Homo sapiens: one gene and its partners. The protein of the gene in region 1 purifies or fractionates together with the protein of each later gene. This does not show direct contact. Each region holds a gene or a part of one and is shown in the gene's direction. Other genes may lie near its edges. The genes, in order: SSUH2, GBP2, ACP7, PLA2G4E, SERPINB8, RAB18 and QSOX1.

Region 1 (3,500 bases):
GTGGTGTGTCTGCAGGTGCGGTGCCCATCCTGCTGCGGAGCCAAGCGCAAAGCCAAGCAGTCCCGGAGATGTCAGCTGTGCGCGGGGTCCGGCAGGCGAAGGTAGGGGCATCTCCCCAGCACCGCGGTGAAGTGCTCTTGCTTTCTGGCTTTTCATTGCCTGCCCATCTGGAAGGCAAACAGGAACCCATCTGTCTCGTCACTGCTGTGTCCCCAGAGCTCTGCACGTAGTAGGTGCTCTGTGGTTATTTGAAGAGTAGGTGAGCTTTTCTCAAGGCCTGGCATTTCTGGACAAGGCTGGAACTCGTCATGCAATATATGTGGAAAGAGTGTGAAGAAAGAGCCACTGCAGGGAGGAAACACAGGGACGGGGTTACCAGGAAAGGAGACCTCTCCCGCCCACGGGTTGGGAAGTGAATATCAAAAACCACCTAAAGGCCAGATTTTTAACTCACTGAGGATCAGTTCCTGGGCAAGCCCCTATTTATAACTCATTTTGGGGTCTGAATGGAGGAGGAGTCAAGGAAAGTTGGTTGATTGACTAAACAATAAACAAAATTTCATCACTGCTCACAGCTTTGCAAACACTGGGCCATTGCATTTTGTAAATCCTATCCTTTAGTGTATTTATAACTTTTTAAGGGAAACAGGAAACCGTGAGGAGTAAAAATACTCAAGGTTGGGTTGGTTAATGATACTTTTGCCTCATTAAAGCCCAGGCCATCCTTCTGACAAGCCAGTTGGAGAAGCTTTGGTGGCACCTTCCATCGTGGTTGGTAGAGACAGTCTCTGACTGGGAAAAAGACACTTATTTTTCTTTCATTTGCAAGTGAAAGGAATCCAATTCAAATTGGCTTTGGCAAAAAAAGTCGATTTACAGGCCTAGGTAAGAATGAAGTCCAGGGGTATATTTCAGGGATGGCTTCAGGCCCAGCTGGATCCGGGTGCTTAAACAACACCACCAGGAATCTGTATCCACCTCTCACTCTGCTTTCCTTTGTGTGGGCTTCATTTGCAGGCAGGGGGTTCCTTGTAGTGGCAGAGGAGATCACCAGTAGCTCCAAGCTTACTAATCCCAGGAGAAAAGATGTCCCTTTCCCGATAGTCCCGACAAACATCCTGGGACAGATCTCATTGCACTCGCCTGGGTCATGTGCCCATCTTTGTATCAGCCACTGAGACCAGGGACATGGAATAAGATGATTGGCCAGTCCCAGATCCCAAGCTGTTCACAGAATTTAGTGGTGGGGGAGGGGGGGGGGCAGGCCCTAGAGCCATGTGGGCTGGGTGGGGGAAGGGTGATCCCCATAGAGATATTGGGGCACTGCCAGCAGAAGGAGGACTAGGTGGTGGGCAGGTACAAACAATGCAGGCCCACCACAGTCTACCTCCAGGAGGAAGGGGGTGCAGGTGGGAGCCTCTGGAAGCCACCAGGACCTGCAACTGATCTGGGGGTACGGACTCTGTGCCTTTCTCAGATGCAGCACTTGCTCAGGGAGAGGGAACAAGACCTGCGCCACCTGCAAGGGGGAGAAGAAGCTGTTGCACTTCATCCAGCTTGTCATCATGTGGTATGTGGCAGTGTCTCAATGCTGTGGCATGCGGGGGTGGCTGAGGGACTTAGCCCTGGACTGGCTTCTGCAGAGAAACTGTGGTTGGTTGGGGCTTTCACAGTGCAAGAACCTGCCAGGACTTAGAAGGGGGAGAATTCCCTTGGAAGAGGCAGTGTGGGGTTGTGGGATGCTGACTGGCTTTAGAACAGACAGACCTCAGTCCAAATTCTGCCATCACCACTTTCTAGGGCAGCAGCCGCTCCACAACTGAGCCCTTCCCGTAGGAATAGAGCCATAGCATCCTGCTACGTCCCTAAGTCAGTCAGGGCTTCCGTGCATTAAAGGTTTCTCCTGTCTCAGGCACCTTGCTAAGTGCTTTGTAGGCAAAGATGAAATGAGGTAATGGAGCTGAACTGTCACTCTCCTTACTAGCTTCATTTTACAGGTGAGGAGACTGAGGCTCAGAGAGGCTACAGAACTGTTGCAAGGTCCCTCCAGTAGCAATTCAAGCCCTCAACCCCAGGTCTGTCTGATTGCAAAGGCCATGCTTTTAACCTGCCACACTGTGTGCTTTCATCCCTCATCCTCCTTCCCTCCAGGAAGAACAGCTTGTTTGAGTTTGTGTCTGAGCACCGGCTCAACTGCCCCAGGGAGCTCCTTGCTAAAGCCAAAGGAGAAAACCTCTTTAAGGATGAAAACTCGGTGGTAAGAGGGCATTGTAGATGGGAACAAAGGAAGCTGGGTTCCTCCTCTGCTCTCGTGGGCCTGGGGCTGCTAGCTGTGTGTGCAGGCTGCATTCCTTGGAAGGACAGGTTGTGTAGGAGCAGAGCTCCCCAGACATGGATAAGGCTGTGGGGAGCCTGGGGGCTGTCAGTTTCCTTTTGACTTTTACACACTCAGCCCTCTGTCCTTCCCCACCCACCATGCCGTTCTTCCTTCCTAATACTCTCTTTCTCTCTTTCCCTCCCTCCCTTCTTCCTCGCTCTTTTCCTTCCTTCCTCATCCCCTCCTTCCCTTTCTTCCTCATCCCCTCCTTCCTTCCACAAATCTTGAGACCCTCCTCCTATATCAGGCACTATTCTTGGCCCTGGGTAGACCATGGCAAATAAAACAAGGACCCTGCCCTCATAGAGCTTACAGTCTGGTGAGGGGACTATGATGGACCCTTTTATAGCAATGTCAGATGGTGAAGGGGCACTGAGAAACATTCAAGCAGGGTAAGGGGCAGGGAGGGGTGGCAGTGTCGTTCCAGCTGGAGGTGGGAAAGCCTCTTTGTGGAAGTGACCTTGGGCACAGACCTGGATGCAGGGCAATTGGGGAGTGGACCTTGTGGCGTGGGAGCGAGGGGACAGTGGGGCAGAGGCCTTGAGGACTGGCAGAGGGCAGTGAGCAGGGCAGAGCTAGGAGCTCAGAAGTGAGAGGTACCTTCAGCCAGAGGAGAGGGTCCTGCGGGCCAGGAGTTGGCACACCCAGCCCACTGCCTGCCTTTGTCGATAAAGCTTTATTGGAACACAGCCCCACGCATTTTCTGACAGGTTGTCTATGGCCGCTTTCCTGATGGTGGGACAGAGCTGGATAATGACAGACTACATAGTCTGAAAGCCTGAAGTATTTACTATTTGGTTCTTAGCAGAAAAGGTTTTCTCACTCTGCCGTTGGCCTTGGCAGAGAGATTGGCTTCAATGGGACTTCTGATGGGGGTCCTCAAACTATAGGGAGGTGTGTCAGCCTCCTTTCTTTGCTCCAGTAATTTGGCTTTTTAAAGGCTCACCTCAGGCATCCCCCCACCAGAAGCCCTGCACCCCACTCTTCCATTTGAGTTAGGGATTTCCCCCTGGGCTCAGCTCAGACTGAGGACCATCCCTAGGCGTCACTGGCTGCTGGCAGCTCTGTGAGCTGACCCTGCCTGGTGCTGAGCTCTGACCACCGTCTCACCCTCAGCGTCCAC
Region 2 (3,500 bases), on another chromosome or scaffold:
CTTGAGCCTGGGAGGCAGAGGTTGCAGTGAGCGGAGACTGCACCACCGCACTCCAGCCTGGGAGACAGAGTGAGACCCTGTCTCCAATATATATATATATTAAATAAATGGTTAAGAGCTAACCAAAGCATATAGAGGAATAGCTTTATAGCAAATAATGTAATGTGGAAATGCATAGGGCAGGATAGAACTTTGCAACTTCAAGAAAATAGAACACAGGAGGCTAATGCCTGTAATCCCAGCATTTTGGGAGGCCAAGGTGGGAGAATTCCTTGAGCCCAGGAGTTTAAGTTTAAGACCAGCCTGGGAAAAGTAGCAAGACCTCATCATTATGAAAAAATTAAAAATCAGCCAAGTGCAGTGGTGCTTGCCCAGAGTCCTAGCTACTCAGGAGGCTGAGGCAGGAGGACCCAGCATGAGCACAGGAGTTCAAGGCTATGGTGAGCTATGATCATGCCCTGCACTTCAGCTTGGGTGACAGACCAGAATTCCATCTCAATTTTTTAAACGAAAATAGAAGAAAGACAGGCGATTGGAACAAGAGAAGACTGAATAAGAGTGGTGTCATAATTGGAGGGGTATAAAGGGGTCAGGTCTTGAAAGGACTGGCAGAGGACTTTGAGGAGATTAGAGTTTGTCTAAGCTCTAGAGAAGATCTTGAAGAATTTTTGGCAGTGAGGTAAGGTTATCTAATTTATGTTTATACATATCTTTCTGAATATTTTGTAGATAATTTGTTGGAGTAGTGAAAGGGAGGGAATGAGAGGATGGATGCTATTTGCAGTGGTTGAGCCATAAATGGGCATTGGGTTAGTCTCAGATTATGACAGTGAAAATGGTGAAAATGGACAAGATCCGAACATACTTTGGATATTAAATCTAAAAGGCCTGTTGATAGAGGGAATATGGATTTATGAAGGGAATAAGAAGGAAATGCCAAGCCTGTCTCCAGCGTTTCGAGTTTAGCAATTGCTTGAATGGCTGTGTTATTTAATGAGATAGTAGCATCAAGAGGAGAAATAGTTTTTCAGAGTGGATGAAGTTTTGATATTTAGATTATTTAATATTGAGATTCTTCTGATTTATGCAGTAAGGAATATAAGATAGGCATTAAAAATAAGGTGCAAAACTTATTTTTAATCCAAAGCTTAAAAGAAATGTCAAAGCAGGAAACAAAATACACCAGCCATCCATACAGATGGTACTTAAAACCGCAGAGAGATGAGAAGGTCCAGGATTGAGTCAAAAAGAATCATCTTTTGTTGTGTGATCAACCACTCCAGTTTGCCTAAGATGAGGTTTTCCTGGCATGTGAGACTTTCAGTGCTACACCCAGCAAAGCCCTGGCAAACTCGATGAGTTGATTATCCTATCTGTAGTTCTGATGAGAGAATATCTAAGAAGACATATTTACCTAAGCCAGACACCAGACTAGTGACTAGTGGTCTGCACCACTAAAATTAATAAAAATAAAAAGGCTAAGTTTTCTCATTGACTTTTTTCATAAATTAGTAGTGAAGAGAGAAAGGGAATAGAGGGAGAGGTGAGAGAAAAGAAAGGTAAGAAAACACATTGACCTAGTATCTCAGCCCCAAAATATCCTAACCTATTCATTTCAATATCTTCCTTTTGGGTGAAGGAAATAGGAAAGAGCCACTTCAATTTCCTCTGTGATTAGAGGTTAACAAATTATTCCATTACTATTCTTTATCCAAAACTTATTTAAAAGTATTATTTGTGACACTCACTTGAAAAGCACACAAAATATTCTGTCCCACCAACTGATAGTCACATTTTTTTAAAAATTCCCTTTTGCAGGTCTAGAGAGCCTGGTGCTGACCTACGTCAATGCCATCAGCAGTGGGGATCTACCCTGCATGGAGAACGCAGTCCTGGCCTTGGCCCAGATAGAGAACTCAGCCGCAGTGGAAAAGGCTATTGCCCACTATGAACAGCAGATGGGCCAGAAGGTGCAGCTGCCCACGGAAACCCTCCAGGAGCTGCTGGACCTGCACAGGGACAGTGAGAGAGAGGCCATTGAAGTCTTCATGAAGAACTCTTTCAAGGATGTGGACCAAATGTTCCAGAGGAAATTAGGGGTATATTTGGTGTTCTACGTCATGAGAGGCAGAAAAATATGGGCCCTTCATGGGAAAATAATTCTTTCTAGACCCCAAAATAGTTACACTCAGTTATGTGTACATATTTGAAATAATCATTAAAAGACTAGAATGTGCATAGCCTTAGACCTTTAAAAAAAGACACCTAATTTTTTACTAAAATTTGCTTTTGTTAGTTTTTCCTCTCTGGGTCCCATATTTTAAGAAAGTAAGTAGATGGTACAACTGCATTGTTAAAGACTATTTTAACTTATTTTGTCCTTTTAAATTAAAAAATACATTGTTTTTATGTTCCCTGGTAATTATCAGTGGGGACTAAATTATTTTTAAATAACCCTAATAATTTTTTTAAATGTGAGCCAATGGTAAAATATTCAGAAGGCCAAGAAAGAGAAATTAATTATATAAATTTTATTAGAGAATGTTTTTAATGTCTGCCTCATTCCAAGTGAACAAAGTATTTTTGCATGCAGAATGACCACTTGACAAATGAAAGTCCTTTCCCTAGCTAGGAAGGCAGGATCTTATAAATGATACGTTGCTACAGTCAGAGGTTCTGGTGAAGCTAGATAGCCGATGTCAGCAATTGTCACCCTTCCAACCTAAGGAGGAAAGAGAAAGCTTCATAGTTAAGTTATCTTGAGTGATTTAATGTAGATAAATGTGCTGTTCTATGAGACTTTCCAAATACTGAAAATACCTATGGCACAATCTTCATTACTTTCATTAGCCCTATGCTGAGAAAATACACAAAAATATTCTTATGTTAAAGAATGTACTAAATAATCATGTACTCCTTACTGAGCACTTCTAAAAAGTCCCCGGGCTTAATACTTTACATCACCTCATATAACCCTGCAGAGAAATCTGTGAGATAGGTATTGTTCCTCTGCTGCACAGACAAGGAATCCTCAGTTCACAAAGACTGAGTGTCACAAGCCACAGTGTAGTGTATCCGGGAACTCCAGGCAGGCTGCCTGACTCCAGTGTTTGTGCTCAGAACTATTCCTGAAATGAGAGACTTGGAAAGATAAAAGTTTCGTATGAAATAGTGTATGTGCTTTGAGAATCATTCTCTGAAACAGGAAAACTGGGAGAAAGGAGCTTTAGGAAATCACAAACAGAGAAGTAGATAAATTTCTGCAATAAGCACAACTTAGGGATATTCTAGGATCTAACAGCAATGTGAGGAGCATGGCCCTATTTAGAGGGCCACAATTTCTGAAGGAGAAGCATTTTCCAGTCTCCACATAGTTAACATCCTCCTCATGGCTTTACTGAAACATCTGTGCTGTTTTGTCACTTCACAGGCCCAGTTGGAAGCAAGGCGAGATGACTTTTGTAAGCAGAATTCCAAAGCATCATCAGATTGTTGCATGG
Region 3 (4,108 bases), on another chromosome or scaffold:
GTATCACAATAGCACTGGTTTCCTTTGTATTTCTGTGTATTTATATTATGCATGTAACGACATGATCCTGAGAAGGGCTTGACCAGCTTGCCATAGGCATCTTTAGCACAAAAAAGCTTAGGAACCTCCCATTCTGGACGAACTAAGAATACGGGGAGGTTATAATTGGGGGCCACAGGAGTGGCAGGTACTCAAGTTTGGTTATGAGAGCTACTTTCATTATATTTTAGGCTGTAATGGAGACTCTGGAAGTGGGAAGAAAAAAAAAAAAACTCAAACAGTGCAAAGGGCTCGTTTTGATTTTCCCACACTCCTAGTGCCAATTTCTGAAATTGGTGTCCACAATCAGTAGAAGCCTATGTGCTCTGAATTTACAAAGCCAAGTGGTGGCGGGTCATTGTATCTGCAGTCAGGAAGGGGAAACGACTGGAAATCCGGGCCCCCCCAGTTCTTCCCTGCTTCTCTTTTTGTGGCAGCCGCTCCTCACGTTCAAACAGATTGCAAAGGTTTACAGGGGAGAACCCTAACTTGTTCCCTAGACGTCAGTTTCTGGAGTTCCTGCATTAATACGATTAAAAAGAACAGCTGATTCTTATCCAGCCCTTACTCTGGGCCGGGCCCTGTTATCGGCATGAAATTTCATGCAGCAACTCGTTTACTCCTCACAACAGCCCACGGGGTATATACGAGCATCACCTCCTTTTTACAGGTGAAAAAACCCAAGGTCCAGCGAGGTTGAATAACTCACCTAGGTCGCACAGCTCAGAAAGCCCACTGCAATTCCGGGATTCTGGTTTTGTTTTGAGGTTGCCCCGGGCTTCTGAGGAGGGGTCAGTGGGCTCAGCATGGAAAGGAAGGAAGCCGGAAGGCTGGAGGAAGATGCAGCGAGGCTGGAAAGGTTGGGGATCCCCCGGTCCTGCACACCTGGGTACCTGGGGATCGGGCAGGGCCAGGATAGGGGCCGGTGTCCGTGCCCTGGGGCTCCCCAGCTGATGAGTGGGCGCCTGAGGGACGAGCGCAGGGTTACCTGCCTGGGCTCTCACCTGGTGGCCGGCTCAGAGGTGGCGCGCCGGAGACGTATCATAACCTTCCTGGGTCCCCCTTCCCGCGCCACGCCCTGGTGGGGTGGGCGGGTGGGTGTGGGGCGCCCAGGCAGGACCGGCCGGACCTGTGGGACCCGGGGCCCTGGCTGTCTAGGGAGGCTGTCACCCCGAGGCGACCGGCTCTTCCGGGGCTGGGACGGCTGTAGGCGGCAAGAGGCCTCGGCACCCGCGAACTCATAAATACCGGGGCGGCGCTGGTGGCGGGAGAGGCGCGTGCGGGCAGCCGGCGCCCCCGAGGGTGAGCCGGGGTCCGGGAGGGCGTCCCCTTTCCCGGATGGTCCCGACCCGGCTCCATCCTGGCAGCTGGAGACGGAGCTGGAGCAGGCGGGAAAGCGCTGGAGAGAAGGGGGGTGGGTACAGATGGGGGAAGGGCAGGGACGCTGGGGATGGGGAGAGAGGATGCGGCCGCTCTGGCCATGATGGGCTCTAAAGGATCTGGGGGTGGTGTGGGAGGATTGGGGTCACTAGGAGCAAAATAGAAGGCTAAGGATGGAGTAGGGAGGCGAGGTCCCGGGGGCAGGCGGGAATGCTTGGAATCTCGGGAGTAGGTAGGAGAACTGGGGTTTCTAACAGCAGGATGGAAAGCTGGGGATGGGGCTGCGGAATGCAACCTCCTACACAGCCTCCACCCCGCTCCCAGACCCCCAGCACTGAGAGTGAGCTCTGGTTAGGAGCAAGGCTCTGGAATCAGGCCCTCCTGGGTTCAAATCCTGGCTCCATCCCATCCTAGCTGTGCAGCTGAATCACTCAGCTGCTCGGTTTCCTCATCTGTGATATGGGGATGACAATGCTCACAGCCACCACTTCATAGCAATGTCGTGAGGCTTCCGTGAATTAATCTATGTCAAGCGGTTGGCACACTGTGAGTGAGGCTCAGAGAGCTCTGCTGCTGTTCCTTAGCGATTCTTATTTTTGGTTTCTCTCTCCAGCACCTGGATAACCACCCATCTTGAAGGAGACCTCCCTGCCCTGCCTCTGTTGTCCCCCAGAGCACTGCCTGATCATCCTCTGTTCCCCATCCTCCCAGCCCTTCCTGCTGTACCTGTGGGGAGCTGATCTCCTCAGTCCCCCTGCTTTTCCCCGGTCTGCCATCACCACCCCACCACCATGCACCCCCTTCCTGGCTACTGGTCCTGTTACTGTCTACTCCTGCTATTCTCCTTGGGAGTCCAGGGGTCCCTGGGGGCTCCCAGCGCTGCCCCAGAGCAAGTCCATCTGTCTTACCCAGGTAAGTGTCCCTGACTCATTTCTATGCCTCTACCAGAGAGGCCCAGCGGTGCTTCGTTGTTTGAGGGCTCAGGAATCCCACACTGTGAGCCCCTAGGCGGGTGGCTCATTCCTCCTGAGCCTCCATCATCCACCTCTGTGGAATAGGAAGTACAGGCTGTGGAACACCTGGAAGTGTGGGGAATGATCATGGTGCTCAGCCCACAGAGAGTGCTCCCCTGCTCTCAAAAGGGGACCGCTGCTGTCCTTGTTCATTGCATCTCTGTTGTGTTTCCGGGACCTGGCACGTTTGTTCGTTCATGCACGGTAGGCCTCAGAGCCAGTTGTGGAAGGAACCAGTGGATGAATGATAACAGAGCTGGGTTACCCAGCCCCTTCTCCATCCCTCTTCTCCTCTTCCCCACGAGGCTGACTGCCTCCCGATCTTTGATTAGGATCCTTCCACTGTGGGAGTAAGAGCTTGGACTCTGGACCATTGGCACCCAGACCACGTGGGTTAGAATCCCAGCTTTGCTATGTACCTGCTGCCTAATCTTGGGCAAGTGGCTTAACCTCTCTGTCCTCAGTCTCCTCATCTGGATAATGGGGTAATATTAGTACAACCTCATGGTGAGGTGTAAATGAGTTGCTACCTGTAAAGGGGCAGAACTGAGGCTGAGTGTGGGGGCTCACACCTGTAGTCTTAGCAGTTTGGGAGGCTGAGGCGGAAGGATCACTTGAGCTCATGAGTTTGGGACCAGCCTAGGAAACATAGTGAGACCTCTGCCTCTTAGGGAAAAAGAAAAAATCTTAGACAGGTGTGGTGGCATGCACCTATAGTCCCAGCTACTTGGGAGACTGAGGTGGGAGGATCGCTTGAGCCCAGGAGTTCAAGGCTGCAGTGAGCCATGATTGGCCACTACACTCCAGCCTGGGCAACAGAGAGAGACCCTGTCTTTAAAAAAAAAAATGTGGAGGAGGCCAGGCACAGTGGTGCATGCCTGTAATCTCAGCAATTTGGGACACTGAGGTGGGTGGATCACTTGACCTCAGGGGTTCAAGACCAGCCTGGGTAACATGGGTGAAACCCGGTCTCTACAAAAAAATTAAAAAATTAGCTGGGCATGGTGGCTCACGCCTGGTCTCAGCTGCTTGGGGAGCTGAGGCAAGAGGATCGCTTGAGCCCAGGAGGCAAAGGTTGCAATGAGCCAAGATCATGCCATTACACTCCAACCTGGCTGACAGAATGAGGCCCTGTCTCAAAAAAAAAAAAGGGGGGGGGGAGGGGGATAGAACGGAGCTTGGCATGTAGCAGCAATTTCCATACACTTTAAATCTCAGGACTGTTTGTTTTAAACTGTTAATCTCAGGACCATTTTACATCACTAAATTTTATGGAGAACTAAAATTTATGGAGAAGTTCAAAGAGCTTTAGTTTATGTGCATTACAGCTAGCAATATTTACTAAATAAGGTATTAAAACTGAGGCATTTAAAATTTTTTATTGTCATTTAAAATTAACAATAACAAACACCTTCAGTATTAATGTATATGATATTTTTAAGGAACAAACTGTATTTTGCAAAAGAAGAAATTGAGTGAGGAAAGTGGCATTGACTTGCATCTTTTAAAAATCTTTTATTTATTTATTTATTTTTGAGACAGGGTCTCGCTCTGTCAACCAGGCTGGAGTGCAGTGGCACAGTCTTGGCTCACTGCAGCCTCTGCCCCGCAGGGTTCAAGTGATTCTCCCACCTCAGCCTCCCGAGTAGCTGGGATTACAGGCACCCACCACCCCA
Region 4 (3,500 bases), on another chromosome or scaffold:
CTACCCCAGGCGCCACCTCCATGGATGCTTTTACTGCTGAGGTACAGGCGCCCTGGTGAGAGCTGTGCTGGAAGTGATTCTGTTTTATATTCACAAGAGAAGGGGAGAGCAAAATGGAGACAGAAAGGACAGAGCCCCAGCGCCTCCTCCCAAGCACTAAGAGTTCCTGCTGTGGCTAAAGGGGCCTTACTCAGGGATAAAATGCCCTCCTCACCCCAGCCAGGAAAACATTTTAAGCTGTACCACCTTCTGCACCCCACACCTCCACCCAAAAGGCCTTAGGTCCTTCTTTCCTCAATTGTCTCTCCTCTCAAATCCGCACAGGTAAACACACTCCCAGAAATAACAGCGCTAGGAAGCTGGAGAGAAGCAACTTGCACTCCTAGGGCCAGACCGCCCCTTCTTCCCACGGGAGCAGACGGTGGGCCTCTGTCACAGCCCTCTGTTGCCTCCCTTGTGTGGACCAAGGCCCACACTCGCCTGGGCAGCAGGCAAGCCCTCCAAGCGCCTGCTTTCTGAGGCTGACCCTAGGTGAGGACAGAGACCTGGCGGGTGCCCGAGGAGGACTTGTAATAGCGCTTTAGCCAATGGAAGGTTCTTACAGCCCCCACTCAAAGGAAAACAGACAGAATGAGTCTTGACAAAGAGCCCCTTCCTCCCTCCTTTTTTTTTTTTTTTTTTTTTTTTTTTTTCTTGAGACAGGGTCTTGCTCTGTCACCCAGGCTGGAGTGCAGTGGCACCATCACAGCTCACTGCAGCCTCCACCTCCCAGGCTCAAGCAATCCTCTTACTTCAGCCTCCCAAGTAGCTGGGACTCCAGGAATGAGCCACAATGCCTGGCTAATTTTTGTATTTTTTTGTAGAGATGGGGTTTCTACATGTTGCCCAGGCTGGTCTTGAACTCCTGGGCTTAAGCAATCTGCCCACCTCGGCCCCCCAAAGTGCTGGGATTACAAGTGTGAGCCATTGTACCTGGCCCTATCTTTAGGGAAACATTCCAGGGGCCTCTTAAACCTCTGCTGACCCAGAGCTGGCAACCCTGCTCCTTCCCACATCACCAGTCCATTGACTCTTGGCCTTGCCAGTACAGTACCTGCTGAGCAGGCACCATGTGCCAGGCCTGGTGCCTTCCCTCAGATCCAGCTACAGAAGATGTTGGTTTGTCCCATTGAGGGATCGCACATTAGTAGGGTTCTTGAACAAGCTGCCCACCACCCTCGGACCCCAGTTTTATCACCTGTTAACCGAGGGCTAGACTAACAGTGCTAAGAACTCTGCTAGCCACAGCTTTCTGTGATTTACCAAGCCTGTGTTAGGCTTCAGAGTCCTTCACTGACACCAACTTCTGGGTGTGGAGCTGAGGTCTATTTCTAGACCCACTGCTCTGTGGAAAGGCAGGTGTCAGGTGGCTCAACGCCGCACTCCCTGCCCTCTGTAGCCAGCTCTGCCTCCTCCATTGTTCTTTCAAAGTTGCCGTCATTCTAAGTCTTCTCCCAAGCTTTGCTTCTGGAGCCTTCCCCAACCGCCTGCCTCTGTGTAACCCCAGGTGCCGCTGATAGCCATCATGGCCACTGGGGGTGGAACAAGATCCATGACCTCCATGTATGGCCACCTGCTGGGGCTGCAGAAGCTGAACCTCCTGGACTGTGCCAGCTACATCACCGGTCTATCAGGGGCCACCTGGTAAGGAGACATGAGCCACTGTCTGTGGAGCCCAGGGCAAGCCACGAACAGGCTGGCCTGGGGTCTCAGGTGAAGCTCCTCCCCGCCACCCAAAGACAAAGTGACTCCTGAAGCCTGGGAAGTGCCCCACATGCAGTGGTGTGGCCTTGGGCATGCAGCTTGACTCCTTGGAGGCTCGGCTTGTGTATCTGCACAGTGCGGATAACAGTAGCTCTGACCTCATGCGGTGGGTGTAAGACGCTCTCCCGCTACTAAGTATGCCAGAGACACTGTATGCCCTGGCCTTTCCTGGTGTTACTGTTTCCCTGGGGCTGTGGTATGGACCCAGGAACATGACCCCATACTGCTGGGGACATGCAACGGGCAGGGCCCTGCAGCTGAGCTCCCTCCTTCTCACCCTCTGCTGGTGAGCAGGGCCAGGGGCTGAGCACTGGGTTCCCCCACAGGGAGGCCAGGGTGAGGTCAGCTTACCCACAGAAGGCACAGTGCCTGCGGCTCACTGTACTTTTAGGGGCCCACAAAAATAGGTTAATTTCTTTTAAAATCAGGATCATTTCATTAACAAACTTATAGGTTGAAGAAAATGTTTTAATAAATAATATGAATACATTTGTCTTTATACAACAGTCATGAAATATAAATTTTAATATTTTTTATGTGGCCAGCATGAAATATAAATTTTAATATTTTTTATGTGGCCAGGTATGGTGGCTCACATCTGTAATCCCAGCACTTTGGGAGGCAGAGGCAGAAGGCTTGCTTGAGGCCAGGAGCTCAAGACCAGGCTGGGCCACATAGGGAGGACTTGTCTTTAAAAAAAACAAAAATAAAAAACATATAAACATTTTTTGTGGGGCCCATCAAAACCCTGCGTGGCCCTGGTTCAGGGTGGCCTATCAAGCAGGGCCGTGTCCTGTCTGTGACTGGTGGGCCTGTGAGCCCTGAGGTCCCTTGCTGTGCCTTGTATACTGGAGGAGCTCTGGGTAGCCCCCGTGTGAGCAAATGGATGTGAATGGGCCTTGGAAAGCCAAGGGCTCCTGTGCCACACACCCCCCCGGGGGGCAGAGGCGCCAGCCCAGGTGAGACAGAAGGAGACATTTGCCTCTTGCTAAGCACTGGAGTCACTGCTTCCTATGGCTCATCTTGTTTCTTCCTCACAAAAAACTATGAGAGAGGCATTGTCATTATTTTTCAGCTGGAGAAACAGAGTAATTTGCCAGGGACACTCAGTTAATGAGCAGTGGAGTAGAATTTGAACCTAGTCCCGGGCCCACATCCTTAACCTCCATGCTAAATGGCTGCCCCCGGTAGTAGGTTAAGAAGGTAACTTGCTTCCAGCAGGTTGAGGGGCACCTGCGTCCTCCCGGACTACTATGCGATAGACAGATAGCAGGAGGAACTCAGGCCCAGCCGGGGTGGGATGGGTGGGGTCCCCTGGCCTGGGGAAAGCACAAGTCGTATTCTTTTAAAAACTCATTTGCAATGGCTTCTGGAAGCTTTTTTAAAGTATAAAATGAATGGGTGAAGCTTATGGAGAGCAGGGTGCTTTTTGTTGAAAAGTCTCCTGACCACCTCCCACCTTCCCAAAAGCAAGTCCTGTGAGGGAGGAGGCCCCTGTTTCCTTAAATGTGCAGCCGCAGACTAGCTGCACTGCCAGGGAGGTCATTCTCAGGCGCAGAATGAAAAGGGCCCTTTCCTGTCCTGACGCAGAAAAGCTGGATCCAGGCCAAGAAGAGGCAGACTGAGGCCAGACCCAGGGCTAGTGGGATCACCTCTTTGTTTTGCTCCCCCCGACAACCAACATGTAAGTTAAGAAG
Region 5 (2,794 bases), on another chromosome or scaffold:
CTGTCCAAGGTTGCCCACAAGTGCTTCGTGGAGGTCAATGAGGAAGGCACAGAGGCTGCCGCAGCCACTGCTGTGGTCAGGAATTCCCGGTGCAGCAGAATGGAGCCAAGATTCTGTGCAGACCACCCTTTTCTTTTCTTCATCAGGCACCACAAAACCAACTGCATCTTGTTCTGTGGCAGGTTCTCTTCTCCGTAAAGAGGAGCAATTGCTGTACATACCCTCCTTTCCTTCTACCTATCTTGCCTTAATTAACATTCCCTGTGACCTAGTTGGTGCAGTGGCTTGAATGCCAAAATAAAGCGTGTGCACTGGATAGTGTGTGAAAGTCTTTGCTGAAAGTTCCAGAGCCATTGAGAATAACTGAGGCCGCAGATGCATGAAATTTGGGCCTGGGAAGGCTATGCTGGTTTTGGAGTGTTTGGGGTGCCTGCCATTGCCTCTGCCTTCACCTAAGTCTGTGCCCATTGTTTCAGGGGATCTTATGGAGCATCTCAGGGCTTCAGGAGCCAGCCCTCTTCCATCCGCCCGGCTCTGCCCACCACCACTGCCAGGCTGAACAGGGGACTAGTGCCCAGGTGACACTGCACACAAAGCCAAGGGCAAACCCTATAGAGTAAAGCTGCAGCCACCCTGTGTCTCATGTGCAGCTGAAATAGTGATCTGCTTCTGTCACTGTCACATAGACAGCCCTGCATGCCCCCTGTCTCACACAGTTTGTAATGAAGACAGCTCCTTCTCATCTTTCCATAAGCCTGAGATACAAGTTCAGGGACTCAGCAATGCACTTTAGGACTGAGCTAGGAGGCAAATATCTGAAGCTTGCTATGCTGTTCTTTCCATTCCTTTTCCCTCTGAAACACACAAAATACCAAAGGAACTTACGCAACACACCACTGAGTCCTCTAACTAATCATATGTGCTCAGACACAGCTCAAGCACACCCCTTAGTTAAGAAAGAACCTCCATATACATTAATTTTTTTCTGCCTAAAAATAAAATTGCGTTGTGGCAGCAATTTGGAAACTACAGCAAAGTCTCCAAAAAAATTGAAGTCACCCACAATTCCAACACACAGCAATCACTGCTGTTAATAGTGATATACATCCTTCCCTATTATGTGTATGCAAATAGAAATTTATAAGCATTTTACTACAAGTTAATCATATCCTTCAGTAGCTTATTTCTTCCCTTATGAAAAACCTCCCTTAAGATCTTTCCAGGTCATCAATTTGATGTGCATAGTATTCCACTGTGTGGCTGGATTTCTATAATTGAATCTAATTTTAGACAGTTTGAGTAATTAAAATTATTTCTATTAACAAATAATAGATTGCTAATAATATATATTATGCTGTTTTGGATATACTAAATATTTGCTCACATCCTTAATATATTTTTTAAAATTCCTAACAATAGTACTGTTGAGATAAAAGTTGAGCACATTTTGAGACTTCTTCCAAATTGGTCCCTAGAAAGTTACACTGGTTTGTACTCTCACTTATGTCACTGTTTATACCACCACTGACTGCTGCCTGCTTTATTATTTCTTTAATGAGTTGGACTGAACAGTGGTTAATCCTGACTCTGTTTTTGACTGACAGTTAACAGTTACATGAACCATTCATATTACAGCTCTTACTTAAATTTGACCAAGCCAGGATATATCTGTTAGGCCACATTCATTTAGGGATCATGTTTTCCAAAGCAGGTTTGGGCAAAATTAATCCACAGGACTGAAAGGTATACATCTGTGAGTTTTGTTCTCACTTCCACCTCTAATTTGAAGAACACTTTAATTGACACAGAATACATTTCACATATTTAACCTCTACAATAAGTTCTGACACATTTTCCATGAAACAAACCATCGCTATATTCAAGATAATGAACCTATCTATCATACTCCCAAATTCCTTCTTGCATCTTTGTAATTTCTCACTCTTCCTTCTCCCTCTCCCCGTCCCATCCCAACCACTGATCTGCTCAGGCAACTACCAATCTTCTTTCTGTCACTATAGATTAATTTGCATTTTTAAAGAAATTTACATACATGGAACCATACATCATCTATGCTTTGTAGTATGACTCCTGTCACTCAGTACAATTATTTTGAGATTCATTTATGTTATTGTATGTATCAATAGTTCATCCCTTTTATTGGTAAGTAACATTTTTTTGTATAGGTATACCATGATTTGTTGATGAACAAATTTACCTGTTGATGAACATTTACGTTGTTACCAAGATTTTTGCTATTGAAAATAAAGTTTTTATGAATATTTATATATATACATCTTTGTATGGACATATGTCTTCATTTCTTTTGTATATAGATACATAGAAGTAGAATGGCTGGGTCATATGGAAGGTGTAAGTTTAACTTTTTAAGGATCTGCCAAATTGCCTTTGAAAGTGGTTGTATCATTTAACATTCCCAGTAAAGCCTAGGAGAGTTCTGGTTTTTCTCTCTTCTCACCAATACTTGGTACTACCAGTGTTGTTACTTTCAGCGTGTACCGGCTTTTGGTTGCATTTCCCTAATGCCTAATTATGTTCAGCATTTAAAAAAATGTGCTTAGGCCGGGCGCGGTGGCTCACGCCTGTAATCCCAGCACTTTGGGAGGCCGAGGCGGGCGGATCACGAGGTAAGGAGATCGAGACCATCCCGGCTAAAACGGTGAAACCCCGTCTCTACTAAAAATACAAAAAATTAGCTGGGCGTAGTGGTGGGCGCCTGTAGTCCCAGCTACTCGGGAGGCTGAGGCAGGAGAATGGCGTGAACCCGGGAGGC
Region 6 (3,500 bases), on another chromosome or scaffold:
AAGCAGTTTTAGCATGTGAGATCTGAAGAGCTCAATTGCTGCATGTGAGATTCACCAGAGGAACCTAGGGAAGATGACTGGGGACTTTAGGGGTCTGGATTTAGATTAGGTGCCCCTTCAGGCTACCTGTGTCTGTTGGCTTTGATGGCAGGACGACAGTGTTCAGTGTCTCCTGTGGATGGGTATTGGTAAGTTTCAGATATAATATGTCAAAAGCATAACTTAGAGACATTGTTAGTTATCCACATGCAAATTATTCTTATGTCAGAGACAGTCATTAGACTGTTCACAACAAACTTGCAGAACCAGGAAATAATAATAGAGAAAGAGGAGTTGGGGTATGGGAAGAAAACACATACATTCTGGAAGCGGTGGGTTTCTTTTCTTGGGTAAACAAATTAGCTCATAGGAAAGATGCTTGTCTGCTCTTGAACATGTATCTGGGATTATTAAGGAAAAAAATTAGTTCTTTATATACTCCCTGAAAAACCTTGAGAATTTAACTGTAGAGTGTGCATGACAGAGGCTATCTCTGTGTAGTGTCTGCCAGTGGCTGTCATTTAGTACCTGCACCAAGTCAGAACCATTTTCCTCCTCTGAATTTTCTCAGGGTTTGTGCTTTGCTTTTTTTTTTTTAAAGCAATAGGAAGAAAATGTAGATAATTTCATGTTGTTTATGTAGATGGTTCCACTTTTAAAATGGCATAGTAACTTCTTTATTTAGACCTGGTTAATACAAGATTATTTAGCATGTGGGATTTTTTGTTTGTTTGGCTGTGAAGAAATTTTATATTTAGGTTTTTGTTGGGCTATGTAATCAACACTGTCCTTTTACTAATGGTTGCCCATCATTCTAGGCTTTATCAACTCCTTTATCACCCCAGCTCAAAACACCAAACTTAAAAATATATATATTTGGTATACAGAAAGACCTGGCATAATGCACATTTTGAATGTGCATTTTTATTACTGAATTTGTATATGTAATGGATCACCACAAGTCTTCCAAGAATTACAAATATATTTCCATATTGGTGACAGGTGTTCTATTAAGCATTTAGTATGTGAGGGTGCTGTTCATCTTAGTTGGGGCTGTTCTGAATTAATTGTGACAAGCTAATAAGATATTTTGAAAGTTTCTTTCCAAGCTTCTTGAGCTAATGTTTTCCCTCTGGCCAGTGGGGTAGACTGAACTCTTGAAAGACATGTGGGCAGTTGCTGTTCATTTAAGCCAGATGGCATGTGTCAACTCCTTTTCCTGGAAAGGGAGAGGTTTCTTTTTTGGCTGCTGTAATAAAGCCTTGTGGACTTCTTATGAAACTCTTTTCTTTACATAAATTAGTACTTATAGAAGCTTTTCATAGAACTTTGGGCACTCCTCTTTCACTTATGAAGATTCTTAGATGGTTGTATATAAATGTTTTCATGTATAAATTGTTTTATTGAAATTGTGCTGTAGCAAGTTATTGATTAGGTTATTACATAAAAATAGTATTTTTTTAGGATAAAAATAAAGAGATTATATGACAAGGAGTGAGTGGCCCTTTAATATTTTTACCGGTTCCCCAAGCTGCTTACAGTCAAGATCTGAGTTAGTGGTTGGCTGGCAGTGGACAGCACTCTTAACAGTAGCATGTGGATGCTTAGGGAGCCCCTGGAAGCTGCCATGACCCACAGTCAGCCATGGATAGTCTTCTTTATGTGAGCATTGTAATTGCAGCTCTTGACTTTTAACACGCATAGTGAGTTATCACCTTAAATTGAATTTCGTTTTTCCTTTTTGGAAGAATAGAAGGTAGGTGAGTGAGTGAATTCTACAAGCATTTGATTTTCATTTATCCTGATTAAATCCTAAGATCCTGGATTTTAATGACACTTTTTATCTCCACATCCAGAATTCTAAGAAGTTGGGGTGTGAATTGGGCATTTGATAATAGTGACTTTTCTGTTTTCTGGTTTTCTTGGTAATGGATTTTAAAAGTCTGTTTTACTGGGAGACTTATCAAAATTTTCATTTCTTTAAGGTGTTGACTTTAAGGTGAAAACAATTTCAGTGGATGGAAATAAGGCTAAACTTGCAATATGGGTAAGAGTTTTTAAAATGTATTTTTAAAATATTAAACTTTACTTTTTAAGGATGCAGAAATTGATTTGTGTAGTGTTCTAGAGGTGGTGAATGAACAATTTGTATTAAATAACTTTTGGGAGATTTGATACTGATTAAAGGATAAACAGTAATGTCTTATAATTGGGTAATTAGGCAGCTATGTTTTGTTTAAATTTTCACAATGCATAATTCTTTATGAATATTTCAAAACAGAACAGAATATTAAAAAATCATCTCATCTGCCAAAGAGAATCATAATTGGATATGTTTCTTTGAAGTTTTAAAAAGACCATCTAGACTGAACTAACACTAAAGACAATTTTTAAGGGGAGGAGGAATGACGTGATATTTAGGAAAAAATTTTATTTTTCTTGTTTGTTAGTATAGATATTTATAAAATTTGAGGTTTCAAACTTTGGGCTTATTTTTAATGCCTCGTTTTTCCTTACTGGCTTCTTTTCGTTTTCCTGTCAATCCAACCATTCTGATCCCCGTTACTGTACTAGCTAGACCGCTCATGCTAGTGTCAAATAAGGTAGCATTAACTGTCAAAAATATCCAAGATGCTTAGTGTCTATGTTTGTCTCTCTCTGTGTCTCCCTTTCATCAGTCTATTTACCCACCCACATACCGATCTATCTATATCTGTCTATCTAAATATGATCGGTTATATATATATATGTATATTCTAAATATATACTGTTTTATATATCTATTTTTCACATAGACTGTGATAATTATACATATATGTTTGTAATATAAGAAATCATATTAGAACTGATCAGTCATCAAATCGAGACTTATTTCCACATGGTGGTTAAATGGTAAATGCTGTTTGTACATCAGTCACAGATTGAAAACAGCAAGTGTTCATGCATTGTATGATGTCATATTTCTTGGCATTCTCTGAATGGCACACTGTTTCTAATACACATTTATCCCCAAATAACAAATAATTGTGTAAGTGTGTTTAATGTTTTTATGTCAGTTTTTCCTAACATACAATACTTTAAATTTGTTAACCTGTTTGCCCCTTTCCCCCAAATATGTTTAATATCAATCAGAACGGTAATGTCTAACAGAAAACAATTTGGAAAATGTTGGACTAGAGTATGGTAAAATGTGTTGAACGATATAAGAATGTTGGCTTTTTCCATACTAAAGTGGGGGCCTGATTTCCATATGCTTTTCATGGTTAATTTATTATCCCTTTCCGGCCTTGCTGCTGCTTTGTGAAATCCGTAGATTAGAGTAGTATCTGAGACTTGCTGGTTGCAGTGAGATTTTTCTCTCATAGTTTCGTTTTGTTTTAAATTTATTTTCTAGTTCCTGCCTAATAAAAAGGCTGGCAGGTATTATTGAAGAGACATTTTTACCATAGGCCTATAAACAT
Region 7 (3,500 bases), on another chromosome or scaffold:
AGTCATATTTGTGTCTTAGTTAGAATGTTTTCCTGGTGGTTTTGGAACTTTGCACAACCTCCTCCCCACTGCCCCCCGCCCCCCGCCCCCCGCCTTCTTCTGCATAGCTTCCTACCATCTGCAGGACGGGGAACTTGGGGAATTGCTTTTCACTCTCCAGCTTCCGCTTGTTCCTCCCCACAGTATTTCCCTGGCCGGCCCTTAGTCCAGAACTTCCTGCACTCCGTGAATGAATGGCTCAAGAGGCAGAAGAGAAATAAAATTCCCTACAGTTTCTTTAAAACTGCCCTGGACGACAGGAAAGAGGTGAGTCTGGGAAGCAAATAAAGATCTCTCCATCCTCCGTATTTATGAGAGTGCAAGGGGTTAACCCTGTCATTTCTGACCTTCTTCGCCAGTTTGCACCAGGGAGTCAGTGATCTTCGTTGGGTCCTAACAATAATCAATAAATGACTATTGATTGAGCTCTCTATGCGCACATCTCATTTAATCCTCATAATGTTAGTGGAAGGTAGATATTCTCCCCATTTAGCAGATGAAGAAACAGTACTTTGAAAAGGTTAAGCAACTTGTCTGGGTTCATGGAGCCAGTAAGTGTTTGGGCTGGGATGAAAACTTGGTGAGACCCCAGAGTTTTTAACAACTACCCTGTGCTGCCTCTTAGTTTGTGGTGCTGCTCAGCATGGCCTCCCTGGCCCTCTCCAGGGCACCTTCTGGGCTCCTGCTCATGCTGCTATTTGCAAAAGTGGGTCACTGCAGCCAGCAGAGGTGTAAAACCCTGTAGACTTGTAGGGTGTCAAATCTCGAAGGGACCTCAGAGATAACCCCCTTGTGTTACAGCTGGGGAAGTTGAGGCTGGAACGGGATGCAGCTTGATCTGGGTCACAGCTTTTTAGGTCTGCTGCTGCTTCAGTGGGTGGAACTGGTGAAAGGGAAATGCCACCTTCGAGGTGATAGACTGAGGGACCTCATTTGTCTTAGGGCTGTCTCCTAGAAGCTTCTGTCTCTGCCTCTCCCATCCTTTTCCTTCTCCATATGTGCACTCACACTCATGTGTCCCTCAGGGTGCCGTTCTTGCCAAGAAGGTGAACTGGATTGGCTGCCAGGGGAGTGAGCCGCATTTCCGGGGCTTTCCCTGCTCCCTGTGGGTCCTCTTCCACTTCTTGACTGTGCAGGCAGCTCGGCAAAATGTAGACCACTCACAGGAAGCAGGTACGTCCAGGACCCGTTCACCCCACTGTGCCTCCAACCCTGCTCTGTTCGGCCCTCCAAGGGGAGAGGGGGCAGGGAAGCTCCCTTGAATTGCCCCACTGGCTCCCAGCTGCCAGAAGATGGGGAGAGTCAGCCTTGGGGCTCTGGCTGGATTGCTCTATCTGCAGGTAGCCCCACACGGCCAGAATAGAACCAATCCCAGGAGGGAGCAGACTTTAGGAATTCAACCAGTCCTGTTTTCGGCCCCGGGAGCTCTGGGGCTGAGGCTTCTCCCTGTCTTTCTCCGGGCTTATAGTTTGCTTTGCTTTCAGTCTTCATGAAAAAATTGTGATTCTATTTTTTTATACTCTTAACAAAGAAAAAAACGTGTATTTTACAGTTTACATAGCTGATACATAGCAGGTGCTTTGAGCAATTTTATTGCACTTCCCACTGAAAAACAATTTCCTGGGGGAAGTTGGGGAAACACGTTTCCCCTGCTGCCTCGGATTGTCCACAAACTGCACCACCATGTTCTCCGGCCACGCTGCCCCACACCTGCTTTTGAAGACTGAAAGGATGCGCATCCAATTCAGTCCACACTGATTGAGGAACCAGGTTTATACCAGGCTGCGGCTTGGCTTGGAGGATAGATACATGGGTGAAAAGGGCGACAGTGCCCGCTCTTGGTGGACCTCTAGTGTGAGGCAGGGGGACAGAGAGGCCTGCAGTGCATCAGGGCTAGGGCCGTGGTGGAGAGAAAGATGTGGGGTGAAGAGAGGGCAGGCTCGACGCCATTGGGAAGGGGCCCGAGGCCTTACGGGGTGAGTTGAGGGGTGATGGGTGAGTAGGGATTCCGCCAGGAGAGGAGCATCCCAGCAGAGGGAGCAGCCTGTGTGGAGCCCCGTGAATCAGAGGAACTGCCAGGCAGTGGTGTGGGAAGCCAGTGTGTATGGAGCATCTCCACCATGCCATGTGGCGCTGCAGGTGCCGGGGACACAGCAGCATATGAGACAGGTCCCTGCCCCCACAGGGCCAGTATCTGAGTGGCAGGAGACAGACACAGAGGGATGGCTTCAGCCATGATGACGAATGCTGAGGAAGACAAAGCAAAGCAGTGCCGGAGCGGGTGCTGTCTGGAGAGGGGTCTGGGAAAGGCTTCCCTGTGGAGGGCCCGGTGCTGGGACCCATGTGGAGAGGAGAAGGCAGTGTGGGACGTCTGGGAAGAGAGTCTCCCAGGCTGTGTTGGTGTCCTTGGGCTGCACTCACAAATGTCAGGCTGGGGCTCAGCCAGTAGACGTCTGTTGTCTGAGTTCTGGAGGCTGAAGTGCAAGGTGGAGGTGTCTGTGCTGGTTTCTTCGAGCCTCTCCTTGGCTGGGCGGTGGTCGTCTTCTCCTTGTGTCTCCGTGCAGTTGTCCCTCTCCCAATCCATGTCCAAATTTCCTCTTCCTGCAAGGACACCAGTCCTATTGGATTAGGGCCCACCCTAATGACCTTATTTTACCTTCATTACCTCTTTAAAGACCCTGTCTCCAAATACGGCCACATTCTGAGAGGCTGGGGATTAGGGCTTCAACATAGGAATTTGGGGGGACATAATTCAGCCCATAGCACAGGCTGGAGACCAGCAGGTGCAAAGGACAAGCCTGGTGTGTGGGCAGCACTGAAAGAAGGCTGCTGTGGCCGGAGGGAGGGAGGTGAGGCTGCAGAGACAGGCCGGGGGCGGAGGTGAGCGCTCATGGGCTCAGAGGCCTTGGCGAGGGCAGGGTTTGGAGGTTGGTGTTGGCATTTTGAGAAGCCACTGGAGAGGCTAACGGAAGTGACAGTTGGTTAACACTTTAGAAAGGTGGAGGATGGGCTACTGCAGGCAGGGGGAGGCAGGGCAGCTGAGGAGCAAGCTGCATGCTCGCCCAGCAGTGGTGGTTGGGCCTGGACTAGGGTTGTCAGTGTGCCCCTGGAGGAAGTGGTCAGATTTGGGGATATGTTAAAGGCAGAGCTGAGGGACTTACTGATAGATTGGAGGAAGGGTATGTGGGAAGCAGGACTCGGGTGGACTCCAGGGTTGTGGGGCCTGAGCCTCTGGTGGATGATGGTCCCATAAGCTGAGGAGTCAGGGGCTCGGGTTGGGATGGTGGAATCAATGGCCCGCTTTGTGTCAATAGACCTCCCAATGGAGGTGTGCACAGTTGAGTCTGGAGTTCCAGGGAGAGGTGGGGAATAGAGAGATTAGCTTTATAGTCATTAGTAGCATCAGAGCTCAAGCTGTGGGACTGGATGAGCTCCCTGGCAGGGAGGTAGAGAAGAGTGCT

Evidence for each region.
Region 2: the proteins of SSUH2 (region 1) and GBP2 purify together in Homo sapiens (affinity purification with mass spectrometry; one large-scale study listed by BioGRID and IntAct). This does not show direct contact.
Region 3: the proteins of SSUH2 (region 1) and ACP7 purify together in Homo sapiens (affinity purification with mass spectrometry; one large-scale study listed by BioGRID and IntAct). This does not show direct contact.
Region 4: the proteins of SSUH2 (region 1) and PLA2G4E purify together in Homo sapiens (affinity purification with mass spectrometry; one large-scale study listed by BioGRID and IntAct). This does not show direct contact.
Region 5: the proteins of SSUH2 (region 1) and SERPINB8 purify together in Homo sapiens (affinity purification with mass spectrometry; one large-scale study listed by BioGRID and IntAct). This does not show direct contact.
Region 6: the proteins of SSUH2 (region 1) and RAB18 purify together in Homo sapiens (affinity purification with mass spectrometry; one large-scale study listed by BioGRID and IntAct). This does not show direct contact.
Region 7: the proteins of SSUH2 (region 1) and QSOX1 purify together in Homo sapiens (affinity purification with mass spectrometry; one large-scale study listed by BioGRID and IntAct). This does not show direct contact.

What each region holds. Positions count from the first base shown.
Region 1 is NC_000003.12:8,624,299-8,627,798, reverse strand, and holds part of SSUH2 (protein SSUH2 homolog), read left to right. Parts: intron 1-15; coding exon 16-101; intron 102-1,477; coding exon 1,478-1,570; intron 1,571-2,151; coding exon 2,152-2,257; intron 2,258-3,500. UniProt on the Homo sapiens protein: Plays a role in odontogenesis.
Region 2 is NC_000001.11:89,112,615-89,116,114, reverse strand, and holds part of GBP2 (guanylate-binding protein 2), read left to right. Parts: intron 1-1,818; coding exon 1,819-2,099; intron 2,100-3,430; coding exon 3,431-3,500.
Region 3 is NC_000019.10:39,083,060-39,087,167, forward strand, and holds the start of ACP7 (acid phosphatase type 7 isoform 1 precursor), read left to right. Parts: upstream 1-1,308; 5' UTR 1,309-1,341; exon of another isoform or gene 1,342-1,453; intron 1,454-1,486; exon of another isoform or gene 1,487-2,032; 5' UTR 2,033-2,210; coding exon 2,211-2,331; intron 2,332-4,108.
Region 4 is NC_000015.10:41,993,543-41,997,042, reverse strand, and holds part of PLA2G4E (cytosolic phospholipase A2 epsilon), read left to right. Parts: intron 1-1,546; coding exon 1,547-1,683; intron 1,684-3,394; exon of another isoform or gene 3,395-3,485; coding exon of another isoform or gene 3,486-3,487; intron 3,488-3,500. UniProt on the Homo sapiens protein: Calcium-dependent N-acyltransferase involved in the biosynthesis of N-acyl ethanolamines (NAEs) in the brain.
Region 5 is NC_000018.10:63,987,081-63,989,874, forward strand, and holds the end of SERPINB8 (serpin B8), read left to right. Parts: coding exon 1-198; 3' UTR 199-2,294; downstream 2,295-2,794. UniProt on the Homo sapiens protein: Has an important role in epithelial desmosome-mediated cell-cell adhesion.
Region 6 is NC_000010.11:27,524,804-27,528,303, forward strand, and holds part of RAB18 (ras-related protein Rab-18), read left to right. Parts: intron 1-2,024; coding exon 2,025-2,086; intron 2,087-3,500. UniProt on the Homo sapiens protein: The small GTPases Rab are key regulators of intracellular membrane trafficking, from the formation of transport vesicles to their fusion with membranes.
Region 7 is NC_000001.11:180,189,369-180,192,868, forward strand, and holds part of QSOX1 (sulfhydryl oxidase 1 isoform a precursor), read left to right. Parts: intron 1-183; coding exon 184-306; intron 307-1,064; coding exon 1,065-1,212; intron 1,213-3,500. UniProt on the Homo sapiens protein: Catalyzes the oxidation of sulfhydryl groups in peptide and protein thiols to disulfides with the reduction of oxygen to hydrogen peroxide. Plays a role in disulfide bond formation in a variety of extracellular proteins.